Linked DNA regions of Homo sapiens. The protein of the gene in region 2 purifies or fractionates together with the protein of the main gene of each other region. This does not show direct contact. Each region holds a gene or a part of one and is shown on either strand. Other genes may lie near its edges. The genes, in order: ELAVL2 and ESRP1.

Evidence for each region.
Region 1: the proteins of ESRP1 (region 2) and ELAVL2 purify together in Homo sapiens (affinity purification with mass spectrometry; one large-scale study listed by BioGRID and IntAct). This does not show direct contact.

Annotation. Positions count from the first base shown.
Region 1 is NC_000009.12:23,819,720-23,823,533, reverse strand, and holds part of ELAVL2 (ELAV-like protein 2), read left to right. Parts: intron 1-401; exon of another isoform or gene 402-768; intron 769-978; exon of another isoform or gene 979-1,171; intron 1,172-1,713; exon of another isoform or gene 1,714-1,929; intron 1,930-2,224; exon of another isoform or gene 2,225-2,307; intron 2,308-2,377; exon of another isoform or gene 2,378-2,599; intron 2,600-3,814.
Region 2 is NC_000008.11:94,665,099-94,668,912, reverse strand, and holds part of ESRP1 (epithelial splicing regulatory protein 1), read right to left. Parts: intron 3,760-3,814; coding exon 3,717-3,759; intron 965-3,716; coding exon 663-964; intron 1-662. UniProt on the Homo sapiens protein: mRNA splicing factor that regulates the formation of epithelial cell-specific isoforms. Specifically regulates the expression of FGFR2-IIIb, an epithelial cell-specific isoform of FGFR2.

The DNA.
Region 1 (3,814 bases), on a different chromosome or scaffold from region 2:
ACTTCTTCCCCGTTCCCTCTTTTAACCAAGTGCTTGGGCACCCCGCTTCATAAAGCTAACCTGTTCTGGAGCTCTTCACAAAAAACGCTACGGTTGTAGGAAGAAGTGGTTTGGAAGACTTGGGGAACTCTTCTGAGAGCTCTCCCATAATTTAGTCAGCGTCAGGAAGTAGGGCGTAGGGCATTCTAAGAGTTTTAGGTTTGGATTGACAAATTAAGTAGGCCCATTTTCGCCTAACGTTTTGGAAATAGGCATTTTTAGCAATCCCGCGTGCCTGGGATGAGAATATTATAATTAACTATTTACTGAGAGGTCAAAGAGGCGCAGGCGCTTTGAGCAGTTTTCCCAGGAACCCACACAAAGTCAATTAAGGTCATTTAATTGCAAATCGGATTTGGGGTGACACGGAAATGCTGATATAGAATCAGTTAGCTGTATCCGGTGTCCCCAGACTGGGTCGCACAAATTAAGGGATGGCCTATCTCGCTTTTGACCTTGGTTGAGCCCCCTACTTCACTATGCTGATTAGACTTCGCCCAAGAGGGCAAATTTGCCTCTCCCACACCCGCCCTGGGTTAGACGAGTCCCCTCCCTTCCCCCCAACCCCGCTCCGCCCGTCGCATGGGGGCGGGGAGCGCTGGACGCCCTTAGCGGACCTTGCTGCATCAAACCTGCATCATGCCCTTGAAGCTGTAACCTCGGTCACGTTCTTGCGGCGACTGGGTCGCCCACTGCTCGGTTCCTTTCTCTTACCTCCTACAATTTCAGGTAGGTATGACAGGTGATTTTTTAAATGTAGTATTTTAGGAGAAGGGCTAAAATCGATGCCTTTGCAATGAAAAAAATCCCAACTACAGGTGCTCTCGTAATTAAGCGGCCGAGCAGGTGTAAAAACGTGCTCCAGCCGCGTGGCTCCGGGGTGGGTTTTGACTTCCAGCCGTGGGGCCGGGTCTGAGGACAGGCACAGGTTTTTCTGGGGAAAAGGGATTGAGCTTGGCGAAGGGGCGGGCCAAGGCAAGGCAGCGATGGGACGCCCCCTCGGTGAAGAGTTGGCCATTTCGGGTCTTGAGTTGGGGGGCGATAGAAGGATGCGGCTAGCGGCAAGCGTTTGCATAGTCGAGTGCAGGATTTCCTACTTTGCGTTTGAAGCAGAGTACAGCACCCCGCACAGGTACTCTGGGCTTATTTAAACGTCAGGTTCTCTCTAGAGAGGCAGGGAGGGGCAGCAGGGGGCTAAGCCTTTATTTTCTGTCCAGGGACAGGACCCCTTGGCTGCGAAGTAGGGGGAAAAAGAGAATTTTTAAAAGAGACACACATATGTGTGTATACTTATATATATTTATAAATACATTTATGAACACATAAAGTAACCCCCACGTTAGCTGCTCTGACTCCCCGTTAGCGCCCCGGGCCTCGGGATTTGCAAACTTGCACCTGGAATCAGCCTCCTCTGGGCGCTCAACGCTCTCCACCGAGTCCAGAGAAACCTTGTCGGGGAAGCCTGGTGAGACTCGGAAGTCCGGAGGGACGGAGCTGAGCTGCTGAAGCCCGGCATCTCCCTGCCGGCACGGACCCGAAGGGCGGTCGGGCAGGGCACGCGCCGGCGGCGGCCGCGGCGCCGCGAACTCGCCGCCGGCCCCGCCTCCTGGCGCTCTTCCAAGCAAGCCCCTCCTTCCCGCCCCGCTACAAACGGCGGGACCGCGGCGCCTGGGCGTCACTGAGGCAGTAGCCGGCCGGGTGAGGAGGGCGGTTGCCGGCGCGGCGCGGCGCGGCGCGGGTGGGGCGGGGGTTCCGCCGGCTTCCAGTCCCCTTTCCCGCCGCCGCCGCCGCCACCGCCTCTCCGCGGAGCTCGCCCCGAGCGACTCCTCCGCGGCAGTGCTGACGGCCAGCGGCACGAGCCGTAGTAGCTGCAGCTTCGAGTCACAGCAGGCAAGTGCTGGGGGCGTGGGGGCGGGGACGGCGTCCGCGCCTTGCCCCTGGTCCATTTTGGACGCCGAGGCTAAGGTCTGTGCGCGCCCCCGCTGCGTCTAGCAGGGTAGGGGTGGTGCGCCCTAGTCCGAACTCTGGGCGGGAACACTGGTGGGGGCGGCGGAGGTTGTGCCCGCGAAGTTCCTAGAGCTCAGCCCGTTGCGGCGGGAGTAGAGAGAATTGGGCGCCTCGGGAGGTGGCACCGCCCCTCCCGTGGGCACAAGCAGGTTGGGGGCGGCGGGAGCCGAGCGGGGACAGTCGCGCCTGGCAGCGTGCACGGGCGTGGACGTGCCCGGGTGCGGCCGCGTGTAGCGCAAGAAGGAAACTGTTGAGACGCAGGTGAGTGTATTGGAGGGAAAGTGGGGGAGGGGGCTTTTCTAGAAAAAGGGCAGGATTCCTGTGTTGCACTGGCAACCCCGCCTTGCGGGAGGATGTGTGCACTGGCTTCTCCCGCGGAACACGCCGGGGTGGTGTCTGGTGTGTGCCCACTTGCTACGGCGCCTTCGCGCGCGCGGTCCTTGGAGCTCTCGGGGCGTTTGGAGACTTAACACCGGCCGCGTTGTGTGCGGAGGTGGTGTAGGGCCGCGGGCGCCCAGGGCAGGAGCAATGATGATCCCCTCGTGCGCGTTAGGTGAGGCCCGTCGCAGCCGCGCGAGGTCGCAGCTCGCGGTCACATCTCGGGTTTGCGCGCGAGGCGTGCGCTGCGCGGGAAGCGCGGGCGCTCTGCCGGGCGAGGCCGGCTCTGGGATTTCAGTTCGCTTGCCGTGGTTGCGGCAGCTGCTCCTCCAGCTTGGCTGGTAGGGCCTGCCAGCGGCGGCCGGGGTGCACGGACTAGTGTGCGTGCACTGGTGAGACTGGGGGAGCCAGCGTCGGTTCACTGGCAGGTGCTCCTCCAGTGGCCGTGACAATGCTTAGCCAGCAGTCTTTCTCACGGCATTTCCTTAAAAGCCTCCTTGTTATCCTTCAGGGCCAGAGCGTAAAACCATGCCTCTAGATGCGAGCTATGAGCATGCAGTTGTAGCTGCCCAGATGGTCATTTAGAATTGTGTGCATTTTTAAAGACCATCTTTATGACAAAGATTTTCAAGTCCTATCGTCTCTACATTTTCTGAAAACATGGGAAAAGGATTTGCTACGAGTTGTCCACTCTCCTTTATTCCCTCCCTCAAAGAACGGTTCTTAGAAGTGCCAAAATGTAATACCTTCGGCAAGGACAAAAGCGCTTTTAAAACTTAATTTTCTAGTGGCCCTATTCCTAATAATTCTTCATAAAAATTTAGCTCAGCCTCAAAACTTACGGCGAATCAGTCCATTTAAAACCATTCGAATATCAATTGCTGTGTAATGTCCCCATTCCCTCAAGTAAAATCTGTTTGTTTGAAATATTGTTTTGTTGCCCTTGAAGAGTTTTCTCAAGAATCGTTTCGCCAGAGTCGCTTGAATTTCCCATTTCTTGTGGAAGCTGACCTGGAGTTTCCATTTTGGTGAGCGGGTGGAAAAGCTGTCCTGCATCTACCTTGTCTTAGTAACCTTTGGGTATATATAAATGGTGACTGTATTGCTGAGTGGACCCGAATGTTACTGCATTTGTGGTAGGGGCCTTCTTTATAGGAGGTTTGTAGGGATGCTAAGGTAACAACACTTAAGGTTGTGGGGAGGATATACTTACGGGAAGTTCGCTTGCAAACTATGGGGAGAGAAAGAAGAGGAAGAAAACATCTGGAAGATAAAGGCCAGAATGGGGTAGGAAAAATTAGAATATGAAGAAACATGTTACATTAAATTTTCTGTGATTCCTCCTTTGTAATTTTCCTTTTTGAGAGAGTATTTTTATTTTTGTGTGGTT
Region 2 (3,814 bases):
CTGAGGCAGGACAATTGCTTCAACTGGGGTAGGCGGAGGTTGCAGTGAGCAGAGATTGCGCCACTGCACTCCAGCCTGGGTGACAGAGCAAGACCCCATCTCAAACACACACACACACACACATGCTGAAAGCTAGTAAAACAGGACAGAGCTCACCAGCAGGGTATGAAACCGATGAAGCCTTTTGGGAAATAACATTTGGCAACACATTAAAAACCTTAAAAGCTCACACTCTATATCCAATGCTACAGAAATCAAATTGATGACAGGTTTTTAAGCATTTTACATAGAAATTTCTTCTGGTAGAAAAAAATCAATCTAAGTGTACACTAGAGGAATTTCTAGATAAAGTATGCACTTCCATGAGATATTTAAAGATGAAACTTTTCAGACATAGGTAAGCTTTCATAGTTTTAAAACAGAATACAAAAATCCAGCTATAGCAGTATCCCATTTCTGTAAAAATACGTAGTATGTGTTGTGTGTGTGTACAGGATAACAGCGGCTATCTCTTGGTTATAGAATCAAGACTATTTTCATGCAGTTACACTTTTAGTATTTTGCCAGTTTTATTTTAACATAATGAGCAATGTAGGACTATTTTCAGAGATAAAGAACAGAAATTAATGCAAAGGTACAACATACTTGTTTTTAAAACCAACCTGCTGAACTTCAGCTGCTGTGCTCCTGAAGAGTTCAATGTATCTTTTACCCAACAAGTCTTTATGCTTCCTCAACGCATTCTGTGCATATTCCTCACAGGCAAAGAGGACAAAAGCGTCCCCTGTTGGCCTACCATCTGGGTAGGTGACAAAGAGGATGCCTTCCTTTCCCCCAGTAATAGGGCAATGCTGTCCAAAGAAGGCCACCACTTCTTCAGCTGTGGCCGTGAAAGGGAGCCCCCGCATGCGGACAATGACTTGATTTTCCTTGGAGAGAAACTGGGCTACCTCATTGGAAGTACCTAGGGAAAACAAATATTAGGAAGCAGGGAGAGAAATAGTTAAGACATCAACTTTACCGATTTTAAAGTGATAAAAGTCCTGCCAATGTCTTGAGTTCATAATGAAGACCCATACTCCTACTGAACGCAAAATAACATCCTAGAAATCAGAATTTTCTAAATTTGAAACTCCTCCCCTTTTTCATAAAACATCCTTCTTAATTTAGGAAGCTGGCAAGACAATTAAATCACGGGCCAATCACTAGTAAGTCATTGTGGTAGTTAAAGGCACAGGTCCTGGAGCCAGAATGCCTGGGTCCAATCTTGGCTTTACTGCTTACTAGGGCATAATCTTAGTCAAGTTCAACTCCGTGCCTTACTTTTCTTGTCTGTAAGATTGCCTATGTCATAAATTATGAAAATTAAGTAGGGTAATAGATATAAAGCACTTTGGGTTAAAAAAATCTTTTCCTGATTACTCTTTTGCTCCCAAGAAAACCATCTGCAAGTAACTCAATTACCTTTTTTTTTTTTAATTAAGAAAGGTTCAAACATTCTTAGTAAAAAGAATAGTATAATGAATATATGGGGTACCTACTTTCAATATTGATCAACATTCTGCCCAACATAAAACATTTTGTACAGTGTTGTCATATAGCAAATACTTAAATGCATATCTTTGAAACTCATACACTAGTAACATTTTCCCTAATAGCACGTTCTTCTTTTTGCTTCTTTTTTGTTTTTTTTTTGAGACACAGTTTCACTCTGTCTCCTAGGCTGGAGTGCAGTGGCACGGTCTCGGCTCACTGCAAACACCGCCGCAGAGATTCAAGTTGATTCTCCTGCCTCGGCCTCCCAGAGTAGCTGGGATTACACACACACACACACACACACACACCCCTCTCCTGGCTAATTTGTGTATTATTAGTAGAGATGGGGTTTCACCATATTGGCCAGGCTGGCCTCGAACTCTTGACCACAAGTGATCCGCCTGCCTTGGCCTTCCAAAGTGCTGGCATTAAAGGCATGAGCCACCAAGCCCAGCCCCTAATAGCAAATTCTTATCGCAGTGCCCATATACAATGAAATCCCAGAAATGATATAAACAATTGACTTTGCCATCTCCAAGTTGCAATGCATCTATCATGAAATGTCAGGATTTAGGTAAAACCACAGCAACCCCAAATATATTTGACCCCTAACAATATCAAACATTGCTTGGGAACTCTGGAAATGCTCCTAAATTTGAAGTCCTGAATTTTGAAGCCTTAGAGTTTATCTAAAGATGAACTGGAGCAAAAATATACCAGCAGATTGTGTTAATAGGATGCTGTTCCGGTAAGTTCTATAGCTGCAAAATTTTCACCCAGGCTCTGTAATGTAGGAATACAAATGTTCTTTTACACAGTGAAAGTCATCTTCATATAATTTGGCAATAGGTGTCAAATGGCTGTTGAAAAGGTCCAAAATTCTTTGATTCAGCTATCCTGCTTTTAGAGATTTATCCCAATGAGTGGCGCATACAGAGATTTTAAAATATTGACAACATATTAAAGTCAAAAGTTGGAAATGAGTTCTAAATGCTCAACAGGGATATTTTATTTATTACAGACAGAATCTCACTATGTTGCTCAGGCCATTCTCAAAATACACCAAGGCTCAAGCAATCCTCCCTGTCTCAGCCTCCCAAGTAGCTGGAATTACAGGCACAAGCCATGTGCCCAGCTCCAACAGAGATGTTTCAAAATATTATGGTACATATAATACTATGTAGCAATTAACATTTAAGAAAATTGAGTAATGTAGGATGATGTTAATATACATTAAAAGGAAATTATAAAACAATATGAATGAGCAACAGAAACTTACAAAGTAGATATATATATAGAAAAAAATCAGACAAAAAGCAGTCAACGTTTTATGCATGTTACTTCCTTTAAAGTTATTAATCACTAAATAACTGGATAAAAACCACATCTGTTCCACCCTGTTTTTAACCATATTACTGTAAATACACATCCAAAAATACTACGAGACCCAAAACTACCATGTTTCTGGTGACTCATGTGTTAAGTTTAGAGAAAAATTAGAAGCACATGTGCAACAATCCCAGGTATTGCAGCGTGGCCGTTTGAAAGCAGTTTTCTGACTCTTTTCAAGAATATCATTTCCTGGCCGGGCACAGGGGCTCAGGCCTGTAATCCCAGCACTTTGGGAGGCTGAGGCAGGAGGATCAATTTGAAGCCAGGGGTTCCAGACCAGCTTGGCCAACATGGTGAAACCCCATCTCTATTAAAAATACAAAAAGTTAGCCAGGCATGGTGGCACACACCTGTAAACCCAGCCACTACGGAGGCGGAGGCACAAGAATTGCTTGAGCCTGGGAGGCAGAGGTCGCAACGAGCTGAGATTGTGCCACCGCACTCCAGTTTGGGTGACAGAGCGAAACTCTGTCTCCAAAAAAACAAAACAAAAAAACCTAGCCTTTCCATATGCATACAACTTCATATCACCTTTTCACCTTTGTATAGTACTATTTTTAATGGCTATTTAACTATAGTAAGTTGGCTCAAGCCTTAGGACAAGTGTTATACATTAAGCTCACTGTTATTATCGGAAGCTTCTACCTCTGGGGAAGAAAATCTATTCCCATGTTCCATTAGAAAATAAAAACCATTCATGACCCTATTCACCTACTCTTGCTAAATTTAAGTATGCAAAATTTTTAGATTCTTATTAACTAAAGCCACATTATGTAAAAGGCACTTACCACCAGCAATTTTAAGGAAATCTTCACCTGTTGCTTTGTAAACCTGAGAAAAGACAGAGAAGTTAGTGTTTCTGAGCCTTCCGTCCTATGTTAATTCT